Linked DNA regions of Homo sapiens. The protein of the gene in region 1 purifies or fractionates together with the protein of each later gene. This does not show direct contact. Each region holds a gene or a part of one and is shown on either strand. Other genes may lie near its edges. The genes, in order: PRSS16, DSG1, NEFH, ZNG1C, SERPINB7, ACADSB and SERPINA12.

What was found.
Region 2: the proteins of PRSS16 (region 1) and DSG1 purify together in Homo sapiens (affinity purification with mass spectrometry; one large-scale study listed by BioGRID and IntAct). This does not show direct contact.
Region 3: the proteins of PRSS16 (region 1) and NEFH purify together in Homo sapiens (affinity purification with mass spectrometry; one large-scale study listed by BioGRID and IntAct). This does not show direct contact.
Region 4: the proteins of PRSS16 (region 1) and ZNG1C purify together in Homo sapiens (affinity purification with mass spectrometry; one large-scale study listed by BioGRID and IntAct). This does not show direct contact.
Region 5: the proteins of PRSS16 (region 1) and SERPINB7 purify together in Homo sapiens (affinity purification with mass spectrometry; one large-scale study listed by BioGRID and IntAct). This does not show direct contact.
Region 6: the proteins of PRSS16 (region 1) and ACADSB fractionate together in Homo sapiens (co-fractionation; one large-scale study listed by BioGRID). This does not show direct contact.
Region 7: the proteins of PRSS16 (region 1) and SERPINA12 purify together in Homo sapiens (affinity purification with mass spectrometry; one large-scale study listed by BioGRID and IntAct). This does not show direct contact.

The regions. Positions count from the first base shown.
Region 1 is NC_000006.12:27,246,173-27,250,819, forward strand, and holds the start of PRSS16 (thymus-specific serine protease), read left to right. Parts: upstream 1-1,528; 5' UTR 1,529-1,565; coding exon 1,566-1,635; intron 1,636-1,709; coding exon 1,710-1,876; intron 1,877-2,674; coding exon 2,675-2,774; intron 2,775-2,927; coding exon 2,928-3,057; intron 3,058-4,510; coding exon 4,511-4,634; intron 4,635-4,647. UniProt on the Homo sapiens protein: Protease that may play a role in T-cell development.
Region 2 is NC_000018.10:31,352,360-31,356,310, forward strand, and holds part of DSG1 (desmoglein-1 preproprotein), read left to right. Parts: intron 1-1,540; exon of another isoform or gene 1,541-1,577; intron 1,578-1,937; coding exon 1,938-2,987; 3' UTR 2,988-3,951. UniProt on the Homo sapiens protein: Component of intercellular desmosome junctions. Involved in the interaction of plaque proteins and intermediate filaments mediating cell-cell adhesion.
Region 3 is NC_000022.11:29,486,718-29,490,668, reverse strand, and holds part of NEFH (neurofilament heavy polypeptide), read right to left. Parts: intron 1,821-3,951; coding exon 1-1,820. UniProt on the Homo sapiens protein: Neurofilaments usually contain three intermediate filament proteins: NEFL, NEFM, and NEFH which are involved in the maintenance of neuronal caliber. NEFH has an important function in mature axons that is not subserved by the two smaller NF proteins.
Region 4 is NC_000009.12:68,240,643-68,245,128, forward strand, and holds the start of ZNG1C (zinc-regulated GTPase metalloprotein activator 1C), read left to right. Parts: upstream 1-1,340; 5' UTR 1,341-1,389; coding exon 1,390-1,543; intron 1,544-4,486.
Region 5 is NC_000018.10:63,788,841-63,792,791, forward strand, and holds part of SERPINB7 (serpin B7), read left to right. Parts: intron 1-3,552; coding exon 3,553-3,603; intron 3,604-3,951. UniProt on the Homo sapiens protein: Might function as an inhibitor of Lys-specific proteases. Might influence the maturation of megakaryocytes via its action as a serpin.
Region 6 is NC_000010.11:123,015,161-123,019,111, forward strand, and holds part of ACADSB (short/branched chain specific acyl-CoA dehydrogenase, mitochondrial isoform 1 precursor), read left to right. Parts: intron 1-3,951. UniProt on the Homo sapiens protein: Short and branched chain specific acyl-CoA dehydrogenase that catalyzes the removal of one hydrogen from C-2 and C-3 of the fatty acyl-CoA thioester, resulting in the formation of trans-2-enoyl-CoA.
Region 7 is NC_000014.9:94,495,970-94,499,469, reverse strand, and holds part of SERPINA12 (serpin A12 precursor), read left to right. Parts: intron 1-1,039; 5' UTR 1,040-1,072; coding exon 1,073-1,706; intron 1,707-2,826; coding exon 2,827-3,097; intron 3,098-3,500. UniProt on the Homo sapiens protein: Adipokine that modulates insulin action by specifically inhibiting its target protease KLK7 in white adipose tissues.

The DNA.
Region 1 (4,647 bases):
GACAAAATTGCTTCCCAGAATAAGCTTACTTCCTGGGGAATGGTTTGGGAGAGAAGTGCAATAAAATGTCATCACTATCAGGGAGTGACAACAGAAGGATCAGGGGACAGGGTCTCAGGTGTTGTGCCATTTATAAGGGTGGTCAGGTAAAACCCATTTGGTAAGATAAAATATATGAATGGGGAACTATAGGAAGTGATAAAATAAGACTTGCAGATATTTGGAGGAAAAGCATCCTAAGGAGAGCAAAAATTCTAAGGAAGGAGTGAGTCTTGTGAAATATGAAATAGTCCAATGCAGTTGGAGCAGTGAACCCAGGAGGGGTAGGAGATGAAATCATGACAGTATATACAACAGGGGGCCAGGTCATACAGAGTTTTAAAAACTGTTTTCAAAACTTTAGATTTACTTTGAGTAAGATGGGGCATCAGGGAAGTGTTCTAAACCAGGGAGTGAATGATTGTGAATGATTGGGCTAATATTTAATTCTGTCTCTCTGTCTGCTGAGTGTAGAATAAATCATGAGGCAGAAACAGGGTGACCAGCTAAAAGCCTTCCATGATATCCCAAGTCAGAGATGATGGTGGCTCAGCAGTGGTAGCACTGAAGGTAGTGAGAAGTCATCAGATTCTGGATATATTTTTTAAATTTATGGGAATAACTTTTTAAATGTACAATATTTCTCATAGTGATAAGTCCCATGAAAAAGAATTAGGAATAAAGTTTGAAAAGGAATAGAAGAGGGCCATAGGTTTGGCAATTTTTAAAAAGCTGACCATGGAAGACCTTTCTGAATGAATGACCTTTGAATAAAGATCCAGTTGAAGTGAGGGAGCAAACCACGTGGGTATATAGGGAAATCACAATCCATAGGGTGGGAACAACAAGAATAAGAACCCTAAGGCAGAAGCAAGCCTGGTATGTTCAAAGAACTGTAAGGAGTCTATGGACAGTGTGAGATTGTGGGTCAGAGAAGCTCGGGACAGTGAAGCAGAGCAGAAAGTGAGGGGGCTGGAAAATAGACAAGGTGAGATTGGGGGACAAAGAGATGAGTATGGAGAGAAAGACTGAAAAAGAGATGGGGGACTGAGAAAAAAGAGACGGAAAGACTGAGTGTGGGAACAACTGAGGGGTACTGAAGATATGCTGAGGGGCAGAAAGAAAAGACTGAGAATAAGTGGGCAACTGGGGTTCCAGAGGAGGTGCTGAGGTGGGGAGAGACAGAGGTTGAAGGACAATAAGGCATGCAAAGGAGGAATCTGAGATAAAGAGAAGGTAGACCGAAGAGCGGAGAGGAGGAGACTGAGACAGCGAGGGCTACTGAGAGCTGAGGGAAGAACAGACTGAGAGGCCCAGAGAGAAGAAACTGGGAGTTCCGATGCTGCATCAGCAGCCTCTGTGTACAGACTCTGGCGTCCCTGCCCCGCTTTAGCAGTTCCTACAGACGCTTGACCTGCCAGGAAAGGAAAGAAACCTGAGCCTCTGCTGAAAGGTGATGGATTTAAGGCCCGGCTGCTGAGGATAAGATAAAGGTCCTCCTGGGGGAGAACAGAGTCCCGAACACCATGGCCGTCTGGCTTGCCCAGTGGCTGGGCCCTCTGCTCTTGGTTTCCCTCTGGGGACTCTTGGCTCCAGGTAAGAGGAGGCTGAGGGTCAAGCAGGGCATCCTAAGGGGGCCAGCCTGACTTCCTTCCCTCCATGTCCCACAGCCTCCCTTCTTAGGCGCCTGGGTGAGCACATTCAGCAGTTTCAGGAGAGCTCTGCCCAGGGCCTGGGCCTGAGCCTGGGGCCAGGTGCTGCAGCCCTCCCAAAAGTGGGGTGGCTGGAGCAACTGCTGGACCCCTTCAACGTGTCCGACAGACGATCCTTCCTACAGGTGAGGCCGGGAGACGGGGAGTCCACTAACCATCCTGCCCTCTCCTCAGTCTCCCTCATCTCTTCCTCAGTCTGCACTTTTTTCTCTCTCCACACCTCAGTTCTCCCCATCCCTCTGCTTGAATCTCATGTTATGCTTGCTGTCAGTATCCCTTTTCCTGCCCTTTGTAGATTTGGCCTTACTCTCTCCTCTCCTCGGGGTCCCACTCGTTTTGTCCCTCAGATCTTGCCCTTCACCATTTCTTTCTCTCTGTCATTCACATTCACTGCTCCTCCCTACCCCCTTGTCCCTGTCCAGACTGGACACAAAACCTACCACCAGGTCTCAGTAGGTAGCAGAAATTTGAACCAGCTTTGGAATCAGACCTAGCTCACAACAGGCACTCAAAGATATCTATCGAAAGAAGGAACAAATTCGCCATTTTTCAGTGCTTCCTCTGTATTTAGTCTCCAAATATCATCCCACTTGGATCTTATTCCTAAATCCATCTGCATTTATTTCTTATTTTACAATTATTACTTCAAGAAATAGCAAGTTCCTTCAATGTGAGAGCCACTCCCTCAGTTCTGGGGATATAAGAGTGAAAAACCAGGTCAAAAATTTGCTTTTGTATATTTTGCATTCTAGATGAGGAGATGAACAGGGGAAAAGTGAGCAAGTAAATAAACAAGCTCATTTCAGACACTGTTAAGTACATAAGGAAAGATCCATTAGGAAGAGAGACTGGAACAAATGAGGAATTGAGAATAAGTCAGGACTCTCACAGTGCCATTTCTTCTTCCCCATCCCACCTCTCAGCGTTACTGGGTGAATGACCAACATTGGGTTGGCCAGGATGGACCCATATTCCTGCATCTAGGGGGTGAGGGCAGCCTTGGGCCTGGCTCAGTGATGAGAGGTAAGAGGCAATGTTGGGGGAAAGGAGTTGGGATGCTGGTGGGGACCAGGAAGGGGAGCTGCATATTGCAATGCTGTGAGACCTGAGGAGTGAAAGGGCTTAAACTCAACTTGCATCTCACCTCCCCACCCCCCACCCATACACTCTTCACAGGCCATCCCGCAGCCTTGGCCCCAGCCTGGGGCGCCCTGGTGATAAGCCTGGAACACAGATTTTATGGCCTGAGTATACCTGCTGGAGGCCTGGAAATGGCCCAGCTCCGCTTCTTGTCCAGCCGCCTTGCGTGAGTGGAGGAAGGGAAAGTGTTTATGGTCAAAGGACAGGAATGTCTGTGCTTTGGCATCTCTGCATCTGTGTCTCTCTCCTCCACTGTCTGAAGTCAACCTCTGAGTCTCTGGTTCCCTCTGTTTTCTTCTGTGTTTCATAGGGTCTTGTTTTTTCTCTTTCCATTTCTGGGTCTCTGACTCTCCCTATCTGTCTTTCTCTTATCCTGTGTTCTTTCTATTTCTGCGTCTCTGTCTGAAGTAAGCCACTGTATCACTGTGCAGACCACCAGCATTCCTTACCTGGATTACGGCCACAGCATTCTCACCATTTTTCCTGCTCTGCCCTTGACTTCCAGGTGGAAATCAGAGTAATTCTGTTAGAGCATAAACCAGGACATGATCCTCCCTGGCTTAAGTCCCTCAGACATCTTCTGTATTGCTTCAGAAGTAAAGCAATTTTGACTGTATTTGACTTCAGAGTAAAGTCAAAGCTTTTACAGTCGCCATGGAGTCCAGTGGGTTTTGGCCTCTAGTTAACTCTGACCTATACTCTCTCACTTTCACTGGGCTCCAGCTACATTGAAGTCCTCACTGTCCTCCAGACTTACACGCACATTCCTGCCTTGAGCCTTTGAACTCATCCCTCTGCATGGCGTGGCCTTCCCCTAGATGTTTTTATGCCTCTCACCCCAGCCTCCTTCAGTGCATCTCACTCCTATTAACGACCGCCACCATTTTTCCAACTTTACTTCACCTGCTTTTTGTTTCTTTCATCTGCTTTATTCTTACAGAACTTAGCTTTTTCTTTCCTCATTGGTATCTCTGTCTGTGTCTGTAACAGTCTGTTTGCCTGTCTCATTTTCTCCGTCTCTGTATCTACATCTGTGCCTCTTTGTCTCCATCTCTGTCTCTCTGCATCTTAATCTTTTCTACAAGCGAAACGGTTTTCTAACTGCAACAGGATGGTACCAACTGCAAGCCATTCAGAAAGGTTAGGGAAGAAAGAAAGCCCTTGGGAGGAGAAAGAGGATGTTAGACATATCCAAACTTCACTCTCCATTTCTCTTTGTGTCTGTTCTCTCTCCCAATACCTTGCAACTCATCAGGTTAGGACCCCTCCTTCTCCTCTTAGTAGCCCTCCTTGAGTGCCCTCAACCCTTCCCTACATTTGTCAGGTTTTCATCTAAACTGACTTGGAAATTTTTCCTCTCCTACCTAAAACGAGAAGGGAAAGAGGGTGGTGGCTTTCTAGAAAGTGGACGAGGACAGGGTCTCCCTTGGCCTAGGCACACATGTTCTGGGAAGTGTATGTGGCTTGGAGAACACTTGGAAACACGTCATGAGAAAACGGCCCTGGTTTCTGGCCAGATTCACCCATTCATGTCTCTGGATCCGGGTTTCCCCCAGAATGGGGAAATCTTCAGGGATTCCCAGCGATGAGGACCGACCGAGTCCCCCCTTTGACCCTAGGCTGGCTGATGTGGTCTCTGCCCGCCTGGCACTTTCCCGCCTCTTTAACATCTCCTCCTCCAGCCCCTGGATCTGCTTCGGAGGCTCCTATGCCGGCTCCTTGGCCGCCTGGGCCCGGCTGAAGGTCCTGCGACTCC
Region 2 (3,951 bases), on another chromosome or scaffold:
CCTTTGAGGGTAACCCGACCTTTCTCTCTGGCTGCCCTTAACATTTTTTCCTTCATTTCAACTTTGGTGAATCTGACAATTATGTGTCTTGGAGTTGCTCTTCTCGAGGAGTATCTTTGTGGCATTCTCTGTATTTTCTGAATCTGAACGTTGGCCTGCCTTGCTAGATTGGGGAAGTTCTCCTGGATAATATCCTACAGAGTGTTTTCCAACTTGGTTCCATTCTCCCCATCACTTTTAGGTACACCAATCAGACGTAGATTTGGTCTTTTCACATAGTCCCATATTTCTTGGAGGCTTTGCTCATTTCTTTTTATTCTTTTTTCTCTAAACTTCCCTTCTCGCTTCATTTCATTCATTTCATCTTCCATTGCTGATACCCTTTCTTCCGGTTGATCACATCAGCTCCTGAGGCTTCTGCATTCTTCACGTAGTTCTCGAGCCTTGGTTTTCAGCTCCATCAGCTCCTTTAAGCACTTCTCTGTATTGGTTATTCTTGTTATACATTCTTCTAAATTTTTTTCAAAGTTTTCAACTTCTTTGCCTTTGGTTTGAATGTCCTCCCATAGCTCAGAGTAATTTGATCGTCTGAAGCCTTCTTCTCTCAGCTTGTCAAAGTCATTCTCCATCCAGCTTTGTTCCGTTGCTGGTGAGGAACTGCGTTCCTTTGGAGGAGGAGAGGTGCTCTGCTTTTTAGAGTTTCCAGTTTTTCTGTTCTGTTTTTTCCCCATCTTTGTGGTTTTATCTACTTTTGGTCTTTGATGATGGTGATGTACAGATGGGTTTTTGGTGTGGATGTCCTTTCTGTTTGTTAGTTTTCCTTCTAACAGAGAGGACCCTCAGCTGCAGGTCTGTTGGAGTACCCTGCCGTGTGAGGTGTCAGTGTGCCCCTGCTGGGGGGTGCCTCCCAGTTAGGCTGCTCGGGGGTCAGGGGTCAGGGACCCACTTGAGGAGGCAGTCTGCCCGTTCTCAGTTCTCCAGCTGCGTGCTGGGAGAACCACTGCTCTCTTCAAAGCTGTCAGACAGGGACATTTAAGTCTGCAGAGGTTACTGCTGTCTTTTTGTTTGTCTGTGCCCTGCCCCCAGAGGTGGAGCCTACAGAGGCAGGCAGGCCTCCTTGAGCTGTGGTGGGCTCCACCCAGTTCGAGCTTCCTGTCTGCTTTGTTTACCTAATCAAGCCTGGGCAATGGCGGGCGCCCCTCCCCCAGCCTCACTGCCGCTTTGCAGTTTGATCTCAGACTGCTGTGCTAGCAATCAGCGAGACTCCGTGGGCGTAGGACCCTCCGAGCCAGGTGCAGGATATAATCTCGTGGTGCGCCGTTTTTTAAGCCCGTCGGAAAAGCGCAGTATTCGGGTGGGAGTGACCCGATTTTCCAGGTGCCGTCCGTCACCCCTTTCTTTGACTCAGAAAGGGAACTCCCTGACCCCTTGCGCTTCCCAAGTGAGGCAATGCCTCGCCCTGCTTCGGCTCGCGCACAGTGGACGCACCCACTGACCTGCACCCACTGTCTGGCACTCCCTAGTGAGATGAACCCGGTACCTCAGATGGAAATGCAGAAATCACCCGTCTTCTGCGTCGCTCACGCTGGGAGCTGTAGACCAGAGCTGTTCCTATTCGGCCATCTTGGCTCCTCCTCGAAACCAATTCATGTGATTTTTTTGTGTATGGTTTTATGTCCAAAGTACACAATTATAAATAAGTCCATCTAAGTAAATTTTTAAAATCATAGTATTAGAATTATACTTAAAATGATTTCTAACCAAATTATTTCAAATAATTATAAAATGATTTTTAGAGCATCTCTAGTATGTTAAAATCTTGTTTTATTTCATTCCTCTTTGGAAATGCTCTGGAAGAAAAACTAATGATAAAGGCTGTTCTATTATTGTTAAATATGCATTCATAATTTCATTTTCTCTTTCTCCTATAAATTCAGAAAGCATATGCTTACGCAGATGAAGATGAAGGACGCCCATCTAATGACTGTTTGCTCATATATGACATCGAAGGTGTAGGTTCCCCTGCTGGCTCTGTGGGTTGTTGTAGCTTCATTGGAGAAGACCTGGATGACAGCTTCTTGGATACCCTGGGACCTAAATTTAAGAAGTTGGCAGACATCAGCCTAGGAAAAGAATCATATCCAGACCTTGATCCTTCTTGGCCACCACAAAGCACTGAACCAGTTTGCCTTCCTCAGGAAACAGAGCCCGTTGTTAGTGGACACCCACCAATCTCCCCACATTTCGGCACTACCACAGTAATTTCTGAGAGCACCTATCCCTCGGGACCTGGTGTACTGCATCCTAAGCCTATTCTCGATCCTCTGGGCTATGGTAATGTCACTGTGACCGAGTCTTACACCACCTCTGACACTCTGAAGCCCTCTGTGCACGTTCACGATAACCGACCAGCATCAAACGTGGTAGTGACAGAGAGAGTGGTCGGCCCAATCTCTGGCGCTGATTTGCATGGAATGTTAGAGATGCCTGACTTGCGAGATGGGTCGAATGTTATAGTGACAGAAAGGGTAATAGCACCAAGCTCTAGTCTACCCACCTCTCTGACTATCCATCATCCTAGAGAGTCTTCAAATGTGGTAGTGACAGAAAGAGTAATCCAACCAACTTCCGGCATGATAGGTAGTCTGAGTATGCACCCCGAGTTAGCCAATGCCCACAATGTCATTGTGACAGAGAGGGTTGTTTCTGGTGCTGGCGTAACTGGAATTAGTGGCACCACTGGGATCAGCGGTGGCATAGGCAGCAGTGGCCTGGTTGGCACCAGCATGGGTGCTGGGAGCGGTGCCCTGAGTGGAGCTGGCATAAGTGGTGGTGGCATTGGCCTGAGCAGCTTGGGAGGGACAGCCAGCATTGGCCACATGAGGAGTTCCTCTGACCATCACTTTAACCAAACCATTGGGTCCGCCTCCCCTAGCACAGCTCGAAGTCGAATCACAAAGTATAGTACCGTGCAATATAGCAAGTAGTCAGGACCCCAGCTCACTTTTTCATAGTCATTGTGGTTTAGATCCAATTCCCACCACTAAAAAACCAACAATGTGATTTATAACGCACAACTTCGTGCTCAGGTCATCTAGGAGCAAGGTGAGAAATCACAATGAGAAAAATAAATGGAAACACCACTGCTAGGGGAGAGCTCTCCTTAGCATTCATAAACTTTTCTCTTATATTAGGACTAAGGAACTAAAACTTGAGGCAGAGTCTTCTTTGTGCCTGAGTGGCCTGTAGTCCATCTCCAGCATGTAACTGGCCTTACGATGGCAATTGGCATCATTCTCCTTGCTCTGTTTTGCTTTTCCATATAGCTCGAGCAAAATTCAAAAAGAACTAAATATGCAATATATGTTCATATCTATGGGAAAAATCTAAAATGTGTGCCAGATGCCCTGTTGGTTTCACAGATAACATAAATAAAAATTCAACCACAGATTTATACAAGGGTTAACCATTTTTTTTAAGTTTGACTACATAGTCAAGTCCACAAGCCATCAAGCACTCCTACCTTAATTATTGCACTAGAGAAAATAAATTCCAAATTAGGAAGTGTTTCCTAGGAGGAAAATTCCATTAGAGAGTGGCAATAGGATGAGGTTTCTTCAGGGTAAACTAGCAATGCCTGAGCCTGAACCTTAATGTGGGGCCTCAGTTAAATCTCCTGTGGAGTCAAGGATTCTTCTGATTCTAGTGTGTGTTTAGTGATAGATGTAGTCTTGACGAATATTGCTTACTGGTGAGGTTGAGGAATATCACACTCGTCTTTCCCTTTACCACTGTGGTTTTGACTTAAGAAAGCAAAACTCACTAAGTTTACTTCTCGAATTGAAGCAAGTGAGGCCTGACATGGTTGTCATCACTAGTGGCAAATGACCTTCCAAGTAAGCAGATGGGAACTGAATTGTGTTTTCAGGTTTTGTTTTTAGTAGGTGATAT
Region 3 (3,951 bases), on another chromosome or scaffold:
TCTCTGGAGGCTTGCTGTCTTTTTGGTCTGTGCTGGAGGATTTTTCAGCCTTTTCTGCCTTAGGCTTGCTAGGCTCTTTTGAGAGGGTCTTGTCATCTTCCTTGGCTTTGGCCTCTGTCTTGGGTTTCTCCTCAGGCTTCTTGGCCTTCTCCTCCTTGGTGTCTTTTTTCTCCGGTGCTGCCTCCTTCTTCTCTGCTGGTTTGCTGGGTTCCTTGGCCTTGGCATCATCTGGTTCCTTCTTGGCTACCTCTGTCTTTTCTTTGGGTTTAGCGTCTTCCTTCACCTCCACCTTGGCAGGAGCCTCCTTCTCTGGGGTGGGGACTTTTTTCTTATCTTCAGCCTCTTCCTTCTTGGCTTCAACTTTGGATTCTTTGGGCTTTTCGACAGCAGGTTCCTTCTTCTCCTCCACCTTGGGCTTTGGAGCCTCCTTCTTGGGTGCCTCCTCTTTCTTGCTGTCCTTCTTCTCCTCTGTTTTTGGTGTGGCAGGGGCTTTCTCTTCCTCTGCCTTCTTTGGGGGCTCTTTGACTTTCACCTCCTGGGGCTTCTCCTCCTCCTTCACTGGGGACTTCACCTCTTCCTTTTTTGGGATCTCCTTCTCAGGGGCCTTGGCATCCTCCTTCAGGGGAGATTTCGCCTTCTCTGGGGACTTGACCTCCTCCTTGACAGGGCTTTTGGCCTTTTCAGGGAATTTGTCTGCAGGGGACCTTGCTTCCTCCTTCGCTGGAGTCTTGGCTTCTGGAGACTTCACATCAAGAGTCTTGGCCTTCTCTGGGGACTTGGCCTTCTCTGGGGACTTAGCTTCTTCCTTCACTGGGGACTTGGCCTTCTCGGGGGTCTTTGCTTCTTCCTTCACTGGGGACTTGGCCTTCTCAGGGGACTTTGCTTCTTCCTTCACTGGGGACTTGGCCTTCTCAGGGGACTTTGCTTCTTCCTTCACTGGGGACTTGGCCTTCTCAGGGGACTTTGCTTCTGCCTTCACTGGGGACTTGGCCTTCTCAGGGGACTTTGCTTCTGCCTTCACTGGGGACTTGGCCTTCTCAGGGGACTTGGCCTCTTCCTTCTCTGGGGACTTGGCCTTCTCAGGGGACTTTGCTTCCTCCTTCGTTGGAGACTTGGCCTTTTCCGGGGACTTGACCTCAGCTGGAGATTTTGCTTCTTCCTTCACTGGGGACTTGGCCTCAGCCGGTGACTTTGCTTCTTCCTTCACTGGGGACTTGGCCTTCTCTGGAGACTTGGCCTCAGCCGGTGACTTTGCCTCTTCCTTTGCTGGGGACTTGGCCTTCTCGGGGGACTTGACCTCAGCTGGAGATTTTGCTTCCTCCTTCTCTGGGGACTTGGCCTCAGGCGGTGACTTTGCCTCTTCCTTTGCTGGAGACTTGGCCTTCTCAGGGGACTTGACTTCGGCTGGGGATTTTGCTTCCTCCTTCTCTGGGGACTTGGCCTCAGCCGGTGACTTTGCCTCTTCCTTTACTGGTGACTTGGCTTCCTTCTCTGGGGATGCAGCCTCTTCTGCTGGGGGAGACTTTGTTTCTTCTTCTCCCCCTTCTGCCTCCTCTTCTTCACCCCCTTCTTCCTCCTTGCCCTCCTCCTCTTTGGCCTCTTTCTCCTCTTCTTCAGTCACTTCTTCAGTCACTTGGGTCTCCTCTGTCTGTTCCTCCACAATCACAGTTTCTTTCTCAGACTTCTCCACCACTTTGATCTTCTCTTCGCTTTTCACCTTTATGTGAGTGGACACAGAGGGAATTTTGGGGAGTCCTTCTGGAAGCGAGAAAGGAATTGGGCCAAAGCCAATCCGACACTCTTCACCTTCCAGGAGTTTTCTGCAGGATGGATCACGGAACACATTAGTATAAACTCAGGGCAAATTCACTATTTGGGTTCTTCCTAGACTATCCTGAAGGTCACTGACATCGAATGATATGGGTTTTGGTGGAACAGGAATGTGAATGGTGGGCATTATGAGACTAGAGAAAGTCACTTGGCAAATCATTCCAGTGACCACCCAGAATGTGTACCCCGGTGGGACTGGTCTTTTTTTGTTGATGTTGTTGTTTTTGAGAGGGTCTCACTGTGTTGCCCAGGCTGGAACAGCTGGTCTTCTTCAACACAGCTAAGCCTGAAACTTTTGAAATAAAACAACTTTTGCCCCATAAAAAATGGCCCTCAAGAGAAAGCTCCTAAATAAATTTAACAAAAGTTAAATTTATTGTCCCTCAAACTAAAATATTATTCAAGAGAACCCTGGGAGCCTGAGCAAACAATTCCACTTTTTTTTTTCCTTTTTTTGAGACGGAGTCTTGCTCTGTCACCTAGGCTGGAGTCCAGTGGTACAATCTCAGTTCACTGCAACCTCTGCCTCCCAGATTCAAGCAATTCCCCCAGCTTCAAGCAATTCTCCTGTCTCAGCCTACTGAGTAGCTGGGAGTACAGGCGCACGCCACCACGTCCAGTTAATTTTTGTATTTTTAGTAGAGACGGGGGTTTCACCATATTGGTCAGGCTGGTCTCGAACTCCTGACCTCAGCCGATCCACCCGCCTAGGCCTCCCAAAGTGCTGGGATTACAGGTGTGAGCCACCGCACCCGACCACAATTCTACTTTTATAAATTTGGGTTTAAGAGGTCTTAGAACGCTCCCATTTGAATCGCGAGTGTCTCTCATCACCCTGTATTACCATCTTTTGAGTTTCAGGAATAGGGTAGAGGCCGCAGTTTCTCCTCTTGGCTTTGCTCCTCACTAGATGGGTGACCTTGGCCAAGACACACCAACTCTTTGAGCCTCAATTTCCTCACTGGAAAAAGAGGGTCATTAGAGTCCCTACGTCAGAGGGTTGTTTCAGTGAGACAATGAATGGAAAAGACTTGGCAGAATGCTTGTCTCAGAGTAAGTGTGGGGGTTACCCCTCAGACTAGTACTTCCCAAATTTAGCAGCACACAGATGACCGGGGATCTTATCAAAATGCAGATTCTGATTCAGCAGGTCTGGGGAGGGGCTGAGCGTCTGTCTTTTGTTGTTGTTGTGTTGTTGTTATTTTTGAGACAGTGTCTCACTCTGTGATGACAGGCTGGAGTGCAGTGGCACGATCATAGCTCACTGAAGCCTCCAACTCCCAGGCTCAGGTGATCCTCCCACGTCAGCCTCCTGAGTAGCTGAGACTAAAGGCATGTGCCACCATGCCCAGCTATTTTTTTTTTTTTTGTATTTTTTGTAGAGATGGGGTTTTGCCATGCTGCCCAGCTTGGTCTCTGAACTGAAACAATCTGTCTGCCTTGGTCTCCCAAAGTGCTGGGATTACAGGCATGAGTCACTACACCCAACCAAGAGACTATCTTTCTGATAAGCTCTTGAATGATGCCAATTCTGCTGGTTCATGTGCCATGCTTTGAGTAGCAAGATTACAGACGAGAGCCAAGAGGTAGGAAGCCACAGGTCACCAGTCAGAACTGGGACAAGTCCTCAGGGAATCAGTCCTGCTCCCTAGCCCTGCTCCCCCCGGTCTTATTCCTCAGACTGGATTTCTCAAGGCTGCCACTGACTAAGGGTTCCCTCTGTAGCAGCCCAGTGGTACCTGTGCTTCCTGGATTAGCTTGGGAATGGGATTAGCTCATCTTCCTGACAACCCTATGACATGGTTGCCCTTATTATCATCTCCACTTTATATCCCCAAGAAATGAATGCTTGCAGAGCTAAGAAACTCTAAAGGACAGAGTTTGAAAGGTCCCTGACTCAAGCACCTCTTTTCCCTTCAAAGCAGGCCTCTGGCTGGCTGGATCTGGGGAGGGGATAAGGAACTTCCACCGTCTAAATCATTTCAGAATGAAAGTAAGTCACTCTCAAGACTCATTGGCTGGGCACAGTGGCTCACGCCTGTAATCCCAGCACTTTGGGAGGCCGAGGTAGGCGGATCACCTGAGGTCAGGAGTTCGAGACCAGCCTGGCCAACATAGCGA
Region 4 (4,486 bases), on another chromosome or scaffold:
ACCTTGTTAGTAATCAAGGAAATGCAAATGAAGATCACAATGAAGTCTTCTTTTGTACTCAATTGATTGGTGAAAAATGCATGCCTGATAATATTGACATACAGACCAATGAGATCTCTTATAATTTGCTGGGAAAATGTATCAATTTGTACAAACATTTTGAAAAATAATTGTGCATTTTCTTGTGAAGTAAAACATTTGAATAATCTAGGACCCAGCAATTCAACTCTTAGACACTCAAGAGGAAGTTGCACACACATATGTCAGGAAAAATGTTCATAGCAGCCCTGTTCATAAGAGCAAAACCTGGAACAATTGAGAGGAAATGAATAAATTGCCGTGTAGCCACACAATAGAATACAAGACAGCAGTGATGCTGAAAAATATAGCAAGCCTCAGGAGTTTATATATTATATGGATAATTTTATGAAGCTCAAAAACACCCAAAATTAAACAACATATTCTCTAAGTACATACGTGGGATATGTGATAAAACTAAAAAGAAAACAGGGAAGGATCAGCAATCCAGAACCAATTCATGACTGTTGTTACTATCTTATGGGGCAGGCTGTGGATTGGAAGCGGGGGCGGTGCACATAGGTACGTGTAGCTTACTGGTAATGCTTTTATGTTAGGAATGAGGTCAAAGGAGTTCACTATAAATTTATATTAGAAAGAAGGGCTATCTATGGATTAGTGATGAGAGTGTCATGCACCAGCAAATATGATTAATGAACTTAGGTTACCTGAGGTCCAAATAAATAATGAGAAAAAAGTAAATAAAAGTGATGCATGAATACTAAAAATTTGGAATTACATATATAATATGTAATAATAAAAAAAGAAAAAATTGTCACTGGTTATCCTTCAGGTATAAAAATTACAATTAAAATTGTAATGTTATAACCTTCCATTCTTTCCCCTATGAATTAAAACTTTTTTTTTTAACGAGACTAAAAAATCAAGTTGATAAAATCTATGCCCTGTGGGAACTGGTTAGGTCAGGCTACCCACTCCAGATTTCCAGCAGGCTGGCCTCAGCTCTACCTACAGCCAGTAGCTTATTAAGGCTCTAGGCGCCAGTGACACCTTCAGACAGGTGGTTAGTGCGCCCTAAGGACTCTCCGCAGCGTCGCTCAGGTTCACAGAACACGCCCAGGGGCGTGTCCAGCTGTCGTCGGGGAGAGCCCACCTCCCCGGGGGGTGTGGCTAAGGGACGAGGCAGTTCTCGTCCAGAGCCCAGGTAATCCGGGCGGGATCAGCTAGCGTCGCGATGTGATGACGTCAGGCCCCGGCCAGGCCGGGAGTGGCGTGCTGGGCGTGCGCGGCTGCGGTACGGCGTGTTGGTCCCAGCGGTTCAGCTGAGGTAGGGACGTGCTGTAGGCCGGAATGTTACCGGCTGTTGGATCTGTGGATGAGGAAGAGGATCCTGCGGAGGAGGATTGTCCTGAATTGGTTCCCATTGAGACGACGCAAAGCGAGGAGGAGGAAAAGTCTGGCCTCGGCGCCAAGATCCCAGTCACAATTATCACCGGGTATTTAGGTAACTAACCATCCCAGTCACAAAATGCCGTGAACTCTGGTGTCATGGGATTTTGCGGGCTGCCGGTGCCTCTTCTCCTGAGGCATTGGGGCCTCATGATCAAGAGCAAATGTCTTTGAGGTAGGGGCTGGGTCACTTGCTTCTCGTATGGGTTACCTCTCATCTTGGGAGTTAATGATGCCCGGTCCCCTCTGCGTTAGATTCCCATTTCTCAAGTGAGATGGAAAGTTAGCCTTTGAAACAAGGCTTTGAAGCTAAGACACGCCCCCCTAATTGTCTCTGTGACCTCTTACCAAGTTATCTTACCTTCCTGACGCTCATCTACCTCACCTGAAAATGGAAAAATACCTGTCACCTGTGAAATAGGGCCGGAACAACCTACCTATTGCCATTAAAGGATGTCCCGTCTGTAAAATGCCCGACACGTGGGGCTTTCGTCAGCAGATTCCCCTTCCCCAGGAGCCAAAGTCCTCCAGCCAGTTGGCAGGAAGTGCTCCTATCTTAAACACTTTTCTTTTGAGGTCTGTTTGTAAACCACTGCGTAGGAAGTAAGAATAAAATCTCTGTCCTCCAAGACTATTTCTCAAACTAAGAACGTTTAGAGTGTACAGGGATACTCGAAACCACAAGTTTGTGAACTTGGTAGTTTCGTGAAGGGCGGTTTATGCACTTACACTAGAAGTTTCTTACTGGAAAAGTTTGAGAAATATATTTTTAAACCTTACAGTTAAATAGAAGGGCTAGAACAAATATATGACTGTATTAGAAGTTTGGAAAAAGTTAAGAAATGTAAATAAAATAATACTGTTTCCGGGAAATAATATTCCTAGTTGTTGCTAGAGACAGGTACAGACTTGGGCCACTTCGTGACCTTTTATGTAAAAATAAGAAATAACTGCTTTTGTTTTTTTAAAAACTTTGTAGACTGTAAGTTTATTCCCGTTTTTTGCTCGGAAGTAATTTTATAAAGGAATTTATTTTTGGCGTTTCCCCACAGTTATTCAGAGGCTGCTCTACTGAGAAGATGAACAAATTTCTTGTCCAAAACAATGTATTTCAAACGTGCCCCTCGGGCCTTTCCCGTGTTGCTCACTGGTAGGTCAGTAGATCATTGGAGAAAATGATCTGAAGCTCAGGAGTGAGAATTAATACCAGCAACCTTGTTGCTGAATCTAGGGATAGTTTCACTCCTATCCCTGACCATTTTCCCTTTTTGAAACACTGTTCCTTTGGCTTCTATTACATTTTTCTTCTGATTTTTCCACCTGCTTCTCTGGCTTCTTTTTAAGGCTCCCTCCTCCTTCCCCCTTTGTCCATCTTTAGCTACACACCTGTGTAATTTCTATTTTGATGTCCTACAACTTAAAACTTAACATGTCTGAAACTTCGTCTGTTACCATCCCCCCAAATCCTGCTTCTGTGATCCCAACCATTTGGAATACTCTAAAAGCCTCCTGACTAATCTGGAGTCTTGCTGCCCTTTAATTTATTCGTTGCATGTTAGCCTTAATGATCTTTATAAATGTCAATCCGACTGCGTCACACCTTTCAGTGGCGTCCCTATGGGTTAAAATTCAAATTCCTTAACATGAATTACAAGGACCTGTAGGATCTGGATCTTGCCAACCTTTCCAGCCTGCCAAATTGGCCCCGCACAATAAACTAAGGTTACTTCAAAGGTGCCAAGTGTTTTAGCCCCTTGGAATAGGTACTTTTTTACTGTGACTCCTCTGGCTAGATGTCCCTCTTAGGTTCTCCATAGCATTTTGTGCATCTCCTATTGAATATGTCACCCTGTGACATAATTGCCTCCTTATTCACTGAATTCCCCTCCATTCCCCCCTTCCCTTAATATTTCTAAGCTCTATGAAGGCAGAGACTATCTTGTTCACTTTTTCACCAAGGCCCAGCATAAATCTGTAACGTATTAGAAACCTTTGAATGAATGAACTATGTCTTAAAGTGTTTTTTTTTTTCATAATATGGTTAAAAAGCCCTAGTAAATCTTCTCTTAGAAGATTTCTTACATTCACCCTTTCCTTTCAGTTTTCACATCACTGCCCTGTGAAACACTCATGTTCAGGGCCTCTGTCTCAGGCTTGGACTGGTTTTAAGATCTTCCTCATTGCCCTAAGTCTCTCTCTTCCATACTATACTTCATATTTTTGTGATGTTGAGCTTCCTAAAGTACTCTAAATATAAGCCTTCATCTCTTAAAAAGCTTTGAAAGGAATATGACCTAAAAGATATTAATACCCTAATACTCCGTAAAATCTTCCTAGTTGTAGGAAGATCTAGTTATATACTAGAAAACTTTATTTCAGAAGACATGTATAGCCTACATGTAAAAGTTTTTAGCAGCACTGTAATAGTAAAACACTGGAAACAAACCAAATGTCCAACAAAAAAAAAGATAAAGAAATGATATAGTCATACAATTGAACTACAATACTATGCAGTTAGGATTTTCTTTTTTTCCTCTATGAATTTTAGTGTGTACGGTTCACAAGACTTTTTTTTCTACTGGAGATTGACATATTGGGTTTCATATGCCACCTGCTGGATAAAGTTGGTATAGCTTTATGAATTTATCTTAACTGAACATTCTGTTCATTGTTGACACTACCTGGCTCTATTCCCCATTTCATAAAAACTTTTATAGATTGTTTAAAGCATACTATAAGTAGCCATATAGTCAGCCTGAAGTTGCGTCTCGTTAATGTTGAAATAAAAGGTCACTATAAATAAAAGATTGTGTGTCAATTTTAGGGAAGGTTAGGCTAGGTTGAAGAAACTGTTTCAACTTGTAGGAGTGTTTGTAAATATTTATAAAATTTTATGTCTACATAAAGTATTTTGCAACAGGTTTCAAAGGATGCTTTAATCTTATCCTCTAGGATATTCTATACTAAAATAATATATGAAAAATAGCATGCAAATTCT
Region 5 (3,951 bases), on another chromosome or scaffold:
AGGTTTGTATTTGGGAGCAATAGGCTATACCATGTAGCCAAGTTGTATAGTAGGCCATACCATCTAGGTTTGCATGAGTACACACTGTAACATTCACACAATGACAAAATCACCTAACCATACATTTCTCAGAAAGAATCCGTGTAGTTAAGTGATGCATGATTGTAATAAGTAGAAGGTTTAAAACTTTGAAGAGCAGACATCAGTCAAATTATATTTTATAACTTATATTTATATAAATGTACATAGCCATTTATATTTTTCTCAAGACATTATGTCATAATCAAATATGACTTCCAATATGTTCTCAGCCTTTACTGGTTAAACTTTCCTCCTTGAACTGTTTCAAAGATTAGCGAGCTGGTCCCATCAACTCCTGACCCCTCATTTTAGGAAAGAAGGATACAAAGGGACCACCTAAGTTCAAGCTGGCCACTGCTCATCTCTCTCTCCATCTTATACTGAGATGATGGACAGTAATGACTTTCATTTGAAACTTTTCATTTTGGGAGCCCTGAGAGACAAACTTCATCTATTTTCTGACATAGGATGAAACAATTATAATGATGTAGTCCAAAGTATAAAGATACATGCTTTTATTTCCTTTCTTATAGTAGTCCAAATAAATAATTCCATGGAGTGGAAGGTCCCTGTTGAACCTCCCTTTCCTAGTAACAAGTGACCAACTCCACTGTTCGCCACTGCTCACCAATGAAGTCGCAGCTGCAATAAAATTGACTAAAAAACTGAGGGAGGATTAAGGATACAGAGTACCCAGTATATTCTCTCTCTGAATTCTTTCTCTCAATTGGGAAGAGATAACTGCCATATTTTTAAAGGTATTGAAAATCCACATTGGCCAAGAGCTTATTCTATTTTCAAGTAGAGATGTTGCAAAGATGCAAGATTCTCAAAATATAGTGAAAGGTTGAAAATTAAAAGACTTATGCTTTCATCATCTTTTCTTTATCATAACATGCATAAATGTTCTTATAGACTGATATGACAGGTCCTTCAGTACCATATGCTCACAGTGACAGTTTATCTAAAGACTAAGAAAGCTCTTCTATAAATCAAATGCTGATGTTCCCAGGCTGTTGAACCAGAATTGTTCAAGGGTCTCTGTCACTCAGTCACTGCAGGTTCTAGTTCAAAATTTTGGATTTTGAATTTTTCCATAGGTGAAAACATGCCATGCATAGTCACTATTGAAATAAAAATCACTTGCAAATAATTAGGTGATAAAAACTACAACTTAATAACAGCAATGACTTCTTGAGCTTTATTGTAAGTATGGACGTTTCTAAACTGAAAAATATTAAGCTTTCCAGTTTTATTATATTATGAATTTAACAAATTTTTCTTTAAACTAAGCCCACTTAATATAAAAATCCCCAAATTAAACACATTTTAAATTTTATAAACCTCCGTAAAATAATTTTGAATTAAAGGAGCAGAGGGGGCAAGTGCTGAAAAGTTCTCTTCTTTTGTCAGAAGCCACCATGGTGAGGTTGATGACAACAATGATGGTGGGATTAGTTAAAAACAGTCAGCTTTGGGGAGGAAGCATTTAATCACTGTTATTCTGTATATACACTGCTATGAGAAAAATCCTCTATCAGACTAATATGGTCAAAATTATGCCTGATACACAAAATATAGTTTTTAAATTTGGTTGGTACAAATGATTTCCTTAACTCAATTTGTATAGTGCCTCCTTTGTGTGAGACAATGTGTAGTTATAAACAATAAGAAAGAAATATAAGGGATAATATCGAATATTAGAGATAGTACAAATTCTAATTATGAGTTTGTATTCTCGATAAGCTGAAAGTTAGGGGAAGCTCCACATGTTGAAAACACTGTAAAACATGGGGTAGGGAGGGAAGGGGAGAAAGAAAGAGTTTTAAGTGTTCATATGGATTTGACCCAGCCATCCCATTACTGGATATATACCCAAAGGATTATAAATCATTCTACTATAAAGACGCATGCACACGTATGTTTATTGCAGCACTATTCACAATAGCAAAGACTTGGAACCAACCCAAATGCCCAGCAATGATAGACTGGATAAAGAAAATGTGGCACATATGCACTATGGAATACTATACAGCCATAAAAAGGATGAGTTCATGTCCTTTGCAGGGACATGGATGAAGCTGGAAACCATCATTCTCAGCAAACTAACACAGGAACAGAAAACCAAGCACTGCATATTCTCACTCTTAAGTGGGAGTTGAACAATGAGAACATATGGACACAGGGAGGGGTACATCATAAACCAGGGCCTGTCAGTGGGTTGGGGAGGCTAGGGAAGGGATAGCATTAGGAGAAATACCTAATGTAGATGATGGGTTGATGGGTGCAGCAAACCACCATGGCATGTGTATACCTATGTAAAAAACCTGCACATTCTACATATGTATCCCAGAACTTAAAGAATAATAAAAATAAATAAATATTTTTTAAAAATGGTGATGACATAGAGTTTTAGAGCCTATTTAAGTAAAACAGTGCTTTTTTGCATAAAATGACATTTCAAGAAATTTAGGAATAATCATTGGTGGGAAATGTTGATAGGTTCCATGATTCCAAAATTACAAAAAATAACAGGAAAATCTGGTAGGTAAAACTTAACAAATATTAAATTAACACATGAATTGATGACCTAATTTGTATTGGCCCAAATGTTAAAATTATAGCTGCCCAGTCACTTCAGAAAGAGGCTTATTCATTCCATAAATCACAAAATAGTCCACAGGTATTTTTATTTTTATTTTTTTTTGAGATGGCGTCTCACTCTGTTGCCCAGGCTGGAGTGCAGTGGTGCTATCTCGGCTCACTGCAAGCTCTACCTCCTGGGTTCACGCCATTCTCCTGCCTCAGCCTCCCGAGTAGCTGGGACTATAGGCGCCCACCACCACAACCAGCTAATTTTTTGTATTTTTAGTAGAGACGGGTTTTCACCGTGTTAGCCAGGATGGTCTCGATCTCCTGACCTCGTGATCTGCCCGCCTTGGCCTCCCAAAGTGCTGAGATTACAGGCCTGAGCCACCGCACCCGGCCAGTCCACAGGTATTCTGAGTTACATCATTGTATAGTGAAGAAGGTGGTCACATTTCACTGACTATATTGAAAACTGTAGAGTTCCGCTGCTGAAATATGCTTTTCATTCAGTGTCAGACTGGGAGAGCTGTGCACTGAGGCATTAATATCCGTGTGTGGACTGACTACCAGACAAGCATGATTTAATTGGAAGCGATATCACCATAGCATTTATGTAAATTGGCACAAATTCCAAAATCCTAGTAAACCTAAGAGAAAATCAAGTTGTGGTAAAGAAAGAAAATGCAATAAAAATTAAAACCAAGTATGCCTGTTGATGTGCATTCAGAGTCATGGGGAGAATCTGCTCTAAGATACTAATGAACTTGGAATGGCAATTAGACACATTTATTGGGAAAGAATATTTTTATTTTTAAAACCTCTTGCAAACTGTTCTCGTAACCTCTGATTCTAATGATTGCTTTCCTTGTGCCCTGTTTACAGTTGCTTCATGTTAACACTGCCTCAGGATATGGAAACTCTTCTAATAGTCAGGTAAAGACAATATGTTCTTTTAGAAAAAGAGAAGGTGAGCCAGGTGCAGGGGCTCAAGCCTGTAATACCAGAACTTTGGAAGGCTGAGGCGGGTGGATGACTGGAGCCCAGGAGTTCAAGACCAGCCTGGGCAACATGGCAAAACCCCATCTCTGCAAAATATACAAAAATTAGTTTATAATCCCAGCTACTTGGGGGGCTATGGTGGGAGGTTAGCTTAAACCCAAGAGATGGAAGTTGGAGAATGTGGAACTATCCTTTCAAAGCAAAGAAACATGCTTTATTCAGATTTCCAGATTGTGAATTTTTCAAGTAAAATTTTTGATAATTTACTTGTTATTTATTACT
Region 6 (3,951 bases), on another chromosome or scaffold:
ATGTTTACTACTCAACACAGAAATGGCAGTTACTTTGCACATGCAAATATATCTTTGTCTTCCGTTGATCTCTCTCTGGTGCTAGGAAGACTAAGTAACCATAAAGACACTCTCCCTGGCAACCATCAAAGAGTCTTTCTCCTTTCTCTCGGGATCCTCACACACTTGCCCTGTCTTGGGCCTACATTGTCGTTTTTGTTGTTGTTGTTCCTCATGCCACCTTGTCTAAGAAGGCCCACATTATCTTGACTCATTCTCTGTAAGGGCTAGACCAGGTTTTCTGTGTTTTGTAGGATGCTAAGCAGTATCCCTGGCCTCTACTCATAAGAGGCCAATAGCTTGCCTGAGCTATGACAACCCAAAATGTCTCCATCCATGGCCAAATGTCCCGTGGGGGCAAAATTACTGGACTGAGAACCACGGATGTAGACCTGTGTAACAGTGTACTCCATGAAGGAGGGGAAAGGTGGCCTTTCTCCTTATAACCTGGTAGGGAACTTTCTCTCTAAAACTATTTGCCATACTCAGTTTGTTGGCTATAGAAATTGATCTACAGTTTCAAAGATTTTTGTTGAAAGATTTCAATAGCAGCCATTGAGATTTTAAGGTGCTGTTTGCAAAGGAGTTTACAAGATAAAACAGTCAGCAGCTCACAAAAGGAACTCATCACGTGAGACTCTGAAGCCACATCCCACTTAGACCATTTCACAAGTCCACTTTTAGAGTAACAAGGCCCTCAATGAGGGTGATAGCACCGATGATCAGAAAGGAAGACATGTTAATAAAAGAAGACTTGAGAAGATGTGGGAATTATCTTGAAATGGAGGAATTAGATGGACTACACATTTTCTAAATGAAATAGCTTAGTGATAGGCAAAGATTGGGACATCTGGAGAAAAAGTAATTTAGGGTGACAGAAGAAAGGTAATTCTGTTTTAGACACGTTTTAGGTATTAATAAAACTTACAACTGAAAGTGTCTTAGAAGCTGGTCAGAAATGGGTCTAGAAAGTGGACCAGTGCTAAAGCTATGGTAAAAGGAAAACTTCATCTGAATTAAATTTAAAGGAGTTTAATTGAGCAGCAAATTGGGCAGCCCCCAGAACCACAGCAGATTTGGAGAGACTCCAGGGATGCCTTGTGGTCATAACAAATTTATAGACAAATGAAGGGAAGTGACAAATCGGAAGTGAGGTACACAGTGGCTGGATTGGTTACAGATTTGCAATTGTCTTATTTGAACACAGTTAGAACACTCAGCAGTCCATGAGTGGTTGAAGGATGGCTGCTGGGATTGCCCAAGACGCAGCTACTGTTACAGGCGCATACTCCTAAGTTAGGCTTTCAATCTTGTCTACCTATTAAGCTAGGTTACAGTTCATCCACAAGGACTCAAATATAGACATACGGAGTCCTTCTCAGGCAATATTTAGTTTGCTTTAAGAGCTATAAATGCTAGCCAAAACCATAAATGGGTATGGGGCATCGGAAGGATAGTGAAGAAACAGGAGTGGACAAGTCAGCCTTTGGGGTACAGTTCAGACCATCCTGGGTAAATGTTGAGAAGCAAAGAAGCAAAAGGAGACTTAGTAGGATATCAGAGGAAATTCTGTGACATATGTGTTTTATTCAGAATTGGAGCAAAAGAAGGAAAAGGATATTTAAAAGCAAACATACAGAATTTGTGTCACATAAAAAAAACAAACCTGTGAGAGCAGAAGCGGTGTGTTTTGAGAAGTGCAAGACATGGCAGGGCCAGCTAATGGAGCTGGTGGAATGCATACTGAGGAGGTTGTGAACGTGGTTCATGCTCCCTTCACTCAATTTGGTAACCCCCTGTCCCCAGCCAGTGTTGAATATGCAACCCCTGATATGGAACTCTGGTCTTTTGGCATCTATTTAAGTGTTTCTTCTGACTATCTTCCCTGAAAAAGAGGGTGAGTTGAAGAAATTCCCAATGCCTGTTAAGTTGTTGGACCCAAGTAATTATGTGATTAAAAAAAAATTTAAACTCCATAATAGTCCTATCTTTTAAAATTTCTTTGAAAATAGAAGTGAGTGTCTTGTTTCATTTTTGTCCACTGGTAATTTGGGAAAGAGAAATTGTTGACTTGGCTAAGGTCACAATAAAGGCAAGCCCAACTCCTTTACCTTATATTTATTTATTTATTTTTTTGAGACAGAGTTTCATTCTTGTTGCCTAGGCTGGAGTGCAATGCGTGATCTCAGCTCACTGCAACCTCCTCTTCCCGGGTTCAAGTGATTCTCCTGCCTCAGCCTCCCAAGCAGCTGGGATTATAGGCACCTACCACCATGCCCGGCTAATTTTTGTATTTTTAGTAGAGACAGGATTTTACCATCTTGGTCAGGCTGGTCTGGAACTCCTGACCTCACGTGATCCATCCACCTAGGCCTCCCTAAGTGCTGGGATTACAGGTGTGAGCCACCTCACCGGGTGGACACAGTTTCTAATGGCCGGCATTTGCATGTCTAAGCTTGCTGTCCCAGCTTGAAGAGCCGGGCTTTCCTGCTAGACAAGAAACGTTCCTGGAGCTGCTTTAAAAGAAACAAAAACTTCCCAAGGACACCTTTTCCTCTCTATAGGCCTAAAATAATTTTTTAATAACTCCCATAATGAAAGTCGGGGGTGGCTTCCAGGCTATAGGTAAATTTAAACATTTTCTGGTTGACAATTGGTTGAGTTGGGCTAAAAACCTGGGGTGAATAGAAAGGAATGTCTGGGTTGTGATAAGAAGTTGTAGAGACCAAAGTTTAATCATGCAGATGAAGCCTCCAGGTAGCCGACTTCAGAGAGAATGGATTGAAATGCTTCTTATTAGGCCTAAAGTTCTGTGTTGATGTTCATGCTGGTGAGGTATAATGAGGTATGTTCGACCCCCACTTCCCATCATGGCCTGAAACAGTCTCTCAGGTGAAATTTTAAGACCCCTGGCTAGGGAGGAAGTCTGTTCAGCTGGTTTGGGGGGCCTTAGAATCTTATTTTTGGTTTACACATGATTAAAAAATACTTTAGCTCCATAATAATCCTATCTTTTAAAATTTCTTTGAAAATAGAAGTGAGTGTCTGGTTTCATTTTTGTCCACTGGTAATTTGGGAAAGAGAAATTGTTGACTTGGCCAAGGTCACACTACAGGCAAACCCATTTCCTTTGTGTTGATTCCCTTGCCTTGTGTCTTGTCTTGGCTTATTTAACCCTCTTTTGAGGGAATCACTATAATTCTTAAAAGGGCAAGGCATTGTTAGGAACTCCTAAAGACTAGAATGAAGAATCAGAGACTGGTAGATGGGAAAGGTTGCGTTTTTAGCAGTTTTGGAGAATACCTAGAACAGAAGCTATTATTTATGGAGAAAGCAAGCAGAGGTTGGACAGATTCTGGTATAGAAGTTTTGGCTTGGGGATATAAAATTGGGATCAACTTAAAATCTAATCCATTGGTACACTGCTAATAAAGGCATACCCAAGACTGGGTAATTTATAAAGAAAAAGAGATTTAATGGATTCGCAGTTCCACGTGGCTGACGAGGCCCCACAATTGTGGTGAGGAAGGTGAGGGAGGAGCAAAGGCACGTCTTACATAGCAGCAGGCAAGAGAGAAGTGCAGGGGAACTGCCCTTTATAAAACGATCAGATCTTGTGAGACTTATTCACTATCACGAGAACAACACAGGAACAACCCGCCCCCATGATTCAGTTACCTCCCACTGGGTCCCTCCCATGACACATGGGGATTATGGGAGCTACAATTCAAGATGAGATTTGGGTGGGGACACAGCCAAACCATATCAAGCAGGTATGAACAATTTGGCTTAGGAAATCAAAATCAAAACTGAATATAGTGTTAAGTATTTTTTCATTAAATTCTAATAAATTGTTGACACAATTCTCATAAGCCGTATCAATTCCTGTAATTTTAAAGCCCATAAAGTAGT
Region 7 (3,500 bases), on another chromosome or scaffold:
AAATCAATAAGCTTTTTAGGCCAACATGCTTTTAGCATCTCTCTGCAGAATTAGGGCTGGAGATTAAGGGAAAACGTAGCTAAAAGTCTTGTCTCCCAGAAGCTCACAGTGGCCGTTGGAAGATGTCAAAGCTGAGAGGTGGATGAAAGGAGCAGCAGTCCAGAGCCAGGCAGACCTGGCTGTTCCTCTCCCATGGTGCCATCCTCTTCCCTCCCTGGGAAGGGTGTAGGGAAGAAGGTTTCCTGGAGATCTAAGTCCTCCTGGAATGAGTATCCACCACCTAGAGAACATATGAGCTTAAACAAAGAGCTTGATCTCTGTAAATTAGTCATAATTCTTTTGGCTGAAGGGGAAAAATTTACCTCAAACCAGCCAACTCTAAAAGGGAAATTTATTGGCTTTCATAACTTGGAAACATGGAAGTGGGTAGCAAACTGAGTTAAAGGTTAGTCCAGGGTCTCCAAAGATGTCATCAGATGTGTCAGTCCATTTCTGTCTTTCCACCTCCCTCTATCACTCTCCTCTCCTTCTACATGTGGAAACCATGGCCACATTCAGCTCCAGGGCTACTTCACAAAGCTAGCTGCCCCAAAGCTTAGGGGGTTTTGCATTCCCTTAGAAAGACACTGAGAGGTCTGATTTTGGTCCACACTCTCATCTTTAACCAGCCAGTGTGGCAAAGGAATGAAGTATTATGATGGTAGGTCTGGGCCATATGCCTACACTACGGGGTATCCTCACTGTGGTCCAATGGAGGGAAGGAGAGCTGTTCCTCAAAGGAATTGAGACACTGTTTCCATAAAGAGGGTACAAAAACAAGAGTTGTCTTCTACATTCAGTCCTCCTATTTACAAAGTGTAGAAGTCATTTCTAGTCCCCAGGGTGATTATAAAGTTTAAATGCTATAAAGGGGTCAAAGCACTCATAAACTGCTATGTACAACACATAATAGTCACTGTATTTCTTCTTTCATCTGGTCTTCCTCTGGGTAACATGTAGGCAATGGGGTTATCATGTTCTTTTTTTCTGCTGACCTCAGGTCTACTACTCAACAGGATATTCTTCAAGGAAAATGAACCCCACACTAGGCCTGGCCATTTTTCTGGCTGTTCTCCTCACGGTGAAAGGTCTTCTAAAGCCGAGCTTCTCACCAAGGAATTATAAAGCTTTGAGCGAGGTCCAAGGATGGAAGCAAAGGATGGCAGCCAAGGAGCTTGCAAGGCAGAACATGGACTTAGGCTTTAAGCTGCTCAAGAAGCTGGCCTTTTACAACCCTGGCAGGAACATCTTCCTATCCCCCTTGAGCATCTCTACAGCTTTCTCCATGCTGTGCCTGGGTGCCCAGGACAGCACCCTGGACGAGATCAAGCAGGGGTTCAACTTCAGAAAGATGCCAGAAAAAGATCTTCATGAGGGCTTCCATTACATCATCCACGAGCTGACCCAGAAGACCCAGGACCTCAAACTGAGCATTGGGAACACGCTGTTCATTGACCAGAGGCTGCAGCCACAGCGTAAGTTTTTGGAAGATGCCAAGAACTTTTACAGTGCCGAAACCATCCTTACCAACTTTCAGAATTTGGAAATGGCTCAGAAGCAGATCAATGACTTTATCAGTCAAAAAACCCATGGGAAAATTAACAACCTGATCGAGAATATAGACCCCGGCACTGTGATGCTTCTTGCAAATTATATTTTCTTTCGAGGTAAGGCTTTTGGCATGTTGGTGTGGAAAGAATAGGATGACCACTAGACTTGGGTTAAAAACCTGGGTTGGCCACTTGTTTACTCTGTGACCTTGAATTCATATGTGATTTATCTCTCAAAACCTCACTTTTCCTATCTGTAAAATGGTTACCATGATACATAACTCATACAGTTATTGAGATTTAAAGTGAAAATGTATGTGAAATGAGCTTTATGAAGTCTATCATTTTCATTATTGGTGATTATCCTAACACAACATTGGTTATAGAGGTTGGAATGACATTTTGTTCCCATCACTTAGATGAGAAAAAAAAATCAGAGTGAGATTAACTGACTTACTCCAAGTTACAAAGCCCATCATTGACAGTCAGGACTGGAACACATTTCTCCTGGCCCTAGCACTGTGTGCTTTCCAGCACTTTAAGCAGACACCTGAGATGGTGATTGTGTTGATTATGGTGATGGTGATCACTTGGTGGGTCTCCTTATGTATGTATTATATAAATTCTCCTTATCAGACTTTATATATTTCCCAGATCTGATGGAGAGAGACAGAAAAAAAAGATGGAAGAATGTTTCCAATTTCAACTTTATCCCCCAACACCACACAGAACACATGTACACAAACAGGTTGGCCAAAATAGGTGAGAATCAGAGGCCAACACCCATCAGTCCAGACAAAATCACTGCTGGAGTGTCAGGAACATGGTACTAAATATAAAAAATTGAGGGTTCTCAAAATCCACAGGCAGATTGATGGCTAAAGAAGAGTCTACTCACATCAGACTCAATTAGCCCTCATTAATTGTAATGCAGTCCCCTCTGTTAGGACATAATCAGTGGGCTTTCTCAGGCTTAGGGGAACCTGAGCTTATGGTAGTCTTCTTTTCCCCTCTTAATTTGGCAGTCTAGTCCTGGCTTCTTTGGGAACTAATAATTGCACCTGAGCCCATATCATCAGAAATCTCCAGGACATGGCATGAGGGCAAGGACTTCCCTGATATCCCGGAATATCCCCTTTCACCCTGAATCTGTGTGGAGAGAGACTACTGGTTAGTTGGATTTAGTCACCTTTTTTCCCTTGGGATAACATGTCTGTTTGTCTTTCTTCAATCTAAGCCAGGTGGAAACATGAGTTTGATCCAAATGTAACTAAAGAGGAAGATTTCTTTCTGGAGAAAAACAGTTCAGTCAAGGTGCCCATGATGTTCCGTAGTGGCATATACCAAGTTGGCTATGACGATAAGCTCTCTTGCACCATCCTGGAAATACCCTACCAGAAAAATATCACAGCCATCTTCATCCTTCCTGATGAGGGCAAGCTGAAGCACTTGGAGAAGGGATTGCAGGTGGACACTTTCTCCAGATGGAAAACATTACTGTCACGCAGGTAAAGTGGGTGCCTAGCCCTCGCAGCTTTTTCCTTCTCTTGTCTTCCCTCTTATTTCTGCTGTCTGAGCTCTTACCTCATGGCCAAGTCCTCTTCTGGGCTCTATAATAAACTTATATCATGGTGAGAATTAGACTGGGGAACAAATCATAGGAATAGAGTGAAGTGCCTGGCTCTTTGAGGGAGATTCATCAAGACTGTGAGGGCGCAGTAGATGGAGTCTTACTGGAGGGCGGTGGTCAGGGAGGACTTCATAGAGGAGATAGCATTTGAGCCAAGTCTTCAAGGGTGAGTGGCAGTCTGTATGAAAGGGTGAGGAGCAAAGGAAACTGCAAGGACAAACACGGGCTGTAAAAGAGAGCTGTGAGTTGTGAGTAGAATGATGTTGTCAACTGTGGTGTCA